Regions from separate parts of the Homo sapiens genome. Here region 2 is linked to region 1. The links come from fine-mapping of genetic effects on plasma protein levels. A gene starts in region 1. The other region holds a variant in brackets. All regions are shown on one strand. Distances are from middle to middle.

Region 1 (2,500 bases):
AGAATATAAGAAAGTCTCGGCAGAGCGCAGTAACTCAGGCCTGTAATTCCAGGACTTTGGGAGGCAGAGGCAGGGAGATCACTTGAGATCAGGAGGGATCACCTAAGGTCAGGAGTTCGACACCAGGCTGGCCAACATGGTGAAACCCCGTCTCTACTAAAAATAGAAAAATTAGCTGGGTGTGGTGGTGCACGCTTGACGCTTGTGATCCCAGTTACTCGGGAGGCTGAGGCAGGAGGATCGTTTGAACCAGGGAGGCGGAGGTTGCAGTGAGCCAAGATTGCACCACTGCACTGCAGCCTGGGCCACAGAGCGAGACTCCATCTCAAAAAAGAAAAAGAATATAAGGAAGTCCGCAAGAAAGTGAGAGGGCACGTGGTTTGACACCACTAAGATGGGTTAAAATATCCTTCCCTGCCACCTGTGGCTGGAACCTTAACCAGATATTCATGTCTGCTGTGTAAGTGCATGTCAAGGTTCAAACTCCTTTTCTTGTTTACCCAGCCCTGGCCCACACCTGCCTTTCTGCCCTGATTCCCAAGACAAATCCTGCGCCCCAGCAGTCAAACTGGTCCATTCACCACTCCCTGGGCGCACCTTGAGGCTCCCTGCCTTCAGGCCCTTGCTGGTGCCTTTCCCAATCTCTGCCACTGAAAACCCAGGTCACACCAGCTCTCCCTGAAGACTCAACTAATGTGCCCCGATGACTGGGCTTGCTTCCTCTTCTAATCTCCAGATGCTTCACTGCAGGTTGTACCCCACCTTGCATTGTGGTCATCTAAGCCTCCCCTGCTAGAGGGTGAAGATATGACTCTTACCCCTTGCCTTCCCCGGCCCTATTACCCAGCTCTGGGGCCTGCACAAAGACAGAAAGAGGAATATAGGAGTGTAATTCAAGTCAGAGGTAGAATTAGGTTAAAAGCTGGATCAAGATTGGGTTGAGTTTAGGATTAGAATTGGGAAAAGGTTCGTCAATTCTTAATCCCACCTACTAGGCGGCGCCCGCAGTCTCATTCGGGTCAAGACGCCTCCGGTTCTTGAATTTGATTACCAGTCTAGCAAGTTTCTTTCCTGCCCTACTGTCCCTTTAAGGAGGTGAACCAGGTGAGGCCGGGACTCCGCCCCCGGCGCTGGCCCCGCCCCCCGCCCCCGCCCGGCCCGCCCGGCTCTCCTAGTCCCTTGCAACCTGGCGCTGCCATCCGGGCCACTGTCCCAGGTCCCGGCCCGGAGCTATGGAGCGGCGCTGGCCCCTGGGGCTAGGGCTGGTGCTGCTGCTCTGCGCCCCGCTGCCCCCGGGGGCGCGCGCCAAGGAAGGTACCGACCCCCGCCCCCGCGCCCCCAACCCCCGCGCCCCGCCCCTTCCCGGGGCCCGGCCAGCACCCCCCTGCAGAAGCCGGCATTCCTAGGGGCCATGTTCCCCGAGACCCTCGCCAGCTCTCTCGCTGTGCCCGACCGCCAGGCTATCGACTGGCCAGGCCCATCTTTGGTCTTTAACCCCAAGCGGCTGCTCTCCCGGGTCAGTCACCCCCACTCCCGCAGGCCAGCAATCTGCTCCTGGGAGTGGGGAGGGAATTCCGGACCCTTGCCAGGAAGTAGCACCTGCACCCGCACCCCTGCCTGCATTCCCAGACAGTCCCAGCTTCAGGTGCCCACCCCAGAGATCTGAGCCCTTGGAAGTTGAAGGTGGGAAGTCGCCTCCTGCCAACCTAGGCCAGGGACAGAGGGAGCTGCCTCCGGGAGAAGGGTTAGGACTGACGCCACAGGGGTTCCCAGTTGTCCGAGTCGAATATTCCATGTGAAAGTTGGAACACCCTCTCCGGCCTTACTCCCCCCCACTTCCCAGGCAGGTAGCTGTGCCTCTTATCCCCACTTCACGGCTCTGATCACTGGCCAGGTCAGGCCAAAGCAGGCTTCGGACAGTGGAGGTGAGCCTCCCTACCCAGGAAACCCCTTCTGAGGTCCCCGGTCCACCCTGCCCACTCCTGGCTAGCAGAGGTGAGCTCCTCCTGCCCTCCACGCGTTCCAATCCTGCAGCTGATGGGTGTCCCAGGACGCAGCAGCCTGGGTAACTGAGCGTCTCGTGGGGCTGCTCTTCTTGCATTGACTTTGGTCAAAGACCCAGCGCCCCAACCCTTGTCCCACTCTACCTGCCTTCCTTCACACACACAAAGAAGAGTGAAATCCCTGGAGCTCTTCACTCCTCAGTCCTGAGCCCTTTTTCTCCCCTAAGCCTCAGGAAGTCACAGCTTTTAGGAACAGGATGTTGCAGCCTGGGGCTGAGGCCCCAGAATGATTAATGTGGGCTGCAGGGGCACCTCCTCCCCCAGAGGTGACAGACTTCTTTTCTCCCCACTTTCAGTTACTCTGATGGACACAAGCAAGGCACAGGGAGAGCTGGGCTGGCTGCTGGATCCCCCAAAAGATGGGGTAAGTGTCGGAAGAGGGAAGGATCTTGGAAAACTCCTGAAGGCCAGTGGGAAATGGGGTGGAGAGGTGGGTG
Region 2 (2,500 bases), 14 kb after region 1:
GTTCTGCCCATAGAGGACAAGCTGTGGCTGAAGCCTTATGTGGACCTCCAGGCATACGAGGACCCTGCACAGGGAGCCCTGGACTTTACCCGGGAGCTTGATCCAGCGTGGCTGATGGTGGACACTGTCATAGGAGAAGGTGAGTCCTGCTGTGCACCGCAGCAGGCCCCCCGCCATGTGGGGCAGCACAGAGCCACCAGCAGGCCCCTTCCTTCCAGCGCTTCCCTGGGCAGCCCAGCTGGCTTCTCTGGTCCAAGAGTTTCCAGAGGTACTCACTCTGCTCTGCTCTGTATCCTCTTTGAACCATTGCGTTCTTGTTAAAAACCCCTCATCAGGTGCCCTGGAGCAACCCCTGTCTCCTACACACTTGCTTCTGTGGTTTTGGAGTTTCTGATAAAGGGCATTAAATACACTGTTTTCATCCACAGAGGTGCTGCTGTGCTGAGGGTCCAGATGTTCTGTGATGATGCCCAAATGTAGGACTCATTCCCTCCCTAGCCTGGCATTCCACCCCATCAGAGGCCCAGTGTCCTTGGGCTGCCCTGTTCCCTTGGGTCACCAGAGGAAATGGATCTCAGTGGAGAACAAAGCTTGGTGGTGTCCTTGCCAATTGTGCAGCTGAGCCAGGCAAGCTGGGACCAGAGGAGCTCACAGAAGAGAGGCGGCCATAGCCAGCGTCCCTGCCACTTGGGTACTAGTGCCGCACTAGCTTGCTCTTCATGAGCACGGCCCAGTCCCGCTCCACAGGGTTCATTCACCCTGCAGTTGCCGAGCGCCTATTGTGAGCCAAGAACTGTGCAAACACTGGGAGACAGTGGTGAATAGGTCACGGCATTGCACTCCAGCTCCAGACTCTGACCTTCCCCAGGAAGGACAGCCCACGCCCTGTCCCAGGAAGGGCACTCCACGCTTCTGATTCTCCAGAAAAGAAAAGGGCCGGAGGACTGGAGGGGTTGCTGCCTGTCCCCTGGAGGAGCCCTGCAGTGCATCGGGCCACAGCCTGTTTTCTTTCTACCCAGGAGAGTTTGGGGAAGTGTATCGAGGGACCCTGAGGCTCCCCAGCCAGGACTGCAAGACTGTGGCCATTAAGACCTTAAAAGACACATCCCCAGGTGGCCAGTGGTGGAACTTCCTTCGAGAGGCAACTATCATGGGCCAGTTTAGCCACCCGCATATTCTGCATCTGGAAGGCGTCGTCACAAAGCGTACGATGAGTGGTCTCCCTCAGCTGGGGGCGGGAAATGCAGGAAAGAGGGGTGAAACCACTGGAAGTGGAGGGAGGATGTGTGGCCAAGGGCAGGAAGCCCGGTTCTGAGTGTGATATGTGTGTCTGTGTCTCAGGAAAGC[C/T]GATCATGATCATCACAGAATTTATGGAGAATGGAGCCCTGGATGCCTTCCTGAGGGTGAGGAGGGCAGAGGACTAGCTGGGGAGGGGGATGCACCATGGTACCCTGGGCACTGGGAGGAGACCTGGCCCATCCCCTGACTCACCCACTCACCCTGCTGCAGGAGCGGGAGGACCAGCTGGTCCCTGGGCAGCTAGTGGCCATGCTGCAGGGCATAGCATCTGGCATGAACTACCTCAGTAATCACAATTATGTCCACCGGGACCTGGCTGCCAGAAACATCTTGGTGAATCAAAACCTGTGCTGCAAGGTGTCTGACTTTGGCCTGACTCGCCTCCTGGATGACTTTGATGGCACATACGAAACCCAGGTTAGAGGCCGGTACAAACCCAGTGCACATTCACATTGCCCCGTAACATGCCATTCATACAGTCACATGTATATAGGCACAAAGACTTGGCCAGGCACGGTGGCTCACACCTGTAATCCCAGCACTTTGGGAGGCCGAGGCAGGTGGATCACAAGGTCAGGAGATCGAGACCAGCCTGGCGAACATGGTGAAACCCCGTCTCTACTAAAAATACAAAAAATTAGCTGGGCATGGTGGCAGGCGCCTGTAGTCCCAGCTACTCAGGAGGCTGAGGCAGGAGAATCGCTTGAACCTGGGAGGTGGAGGTTGCAGTGAGCCGAGATTGCGCCACTGCACTGCAGCCTAGCAACAGAGCGAGACTTTGTCTCAAAAAAAATAAAATAAAAATACAATAAAAGAAGCAGAAAGACTCGTGCTCAGGTGGACACCATAACTTTCCGTCCCTGACCCATGTGCCTTCTTAGGGAGGAAAGATCCCTATCCGTTGGACAGCCCCTGAAGCCATTGCCCATCGGATCTTCACCACAGCCAGCGATGTGTGGAGCTTTGGGATTGTGATGTGGGAGGTGCTGAGCTTTGGGGACAAGCCTTATGGGGAGATGAGCAATCAGGAGGTGAGCCCAGAATATTCTTCCTCATCTTGTCTCCAATTCACACCTCTTATTTCCTCCCAAGGTCCTCCCATGGCCTTTTCCTGCAAATATCTTTATTTATTCATGACCTTCAGTTTTTCTGTACTCCTGGCTCCTCTGGTTCTTCACCTCATGCCCTGCTCTCTTTACTC

What was found. PIP is the posterior inclusion probability: the model's chance that the variant is causal. The UK Biobank Pharma Proteomics Project read protein levels with antibody pairs (Olink). The fine-mapping took linkage between variants from a reference panel, not from the people measured, so its PIPs are less certain.
Region 2: its variant is fine-mapped to the plasma level of the EPHA1 protein (UK Biobank, PIP above 0.99). The variant lies in the coding sequence of EPHA1. If it changes the protein, the assay may bind it differently, which can mimic a change of level.

Annotation. Positions count from the first base shown.
Region 1 is chr7:143,407,538-143,410,037 of GRCh38, reverse strand. EPHA1 (EPH receptor A1) reads left to right here and starts at 1,182. Exons shown (of 18, transcript NM_005232.5): 1 at 1,182-1,314; 2 at 2,360-2,427. The coding sequence starts at 1,233. It overlaps EPHA1-AS1 (EPHA1 antisense RNA 1), which reads right to left and starts at 2,225. Exons shown (of 5, transcript NR_033897.1): 1 at 2,152-2,225. RefSeq lists an enhancer at 498-1,110.
Region 2 is chr7:143,394,024-143,396,523 of GRCh38, reverse strand. EPHA1 (EPH receptor A1) reads left to right here. Exons shown (of 18, transcript NM_005232.5): 11 at 14-139; 12 at 1,020-1,205; 13 at 1,342-1,403; 14 at 1,510-1,716; 15 at 2,181-2,330. Among named protein-coding and RNA genes, the nearest start is that of EPHA1-AS1, 13 kb to the left of the region's middle. RefSeq lists a silencer at 74-368 and an enhancer at 306-1,016. The variant C/T (reference allele first, on the strand shown) is at 1,348.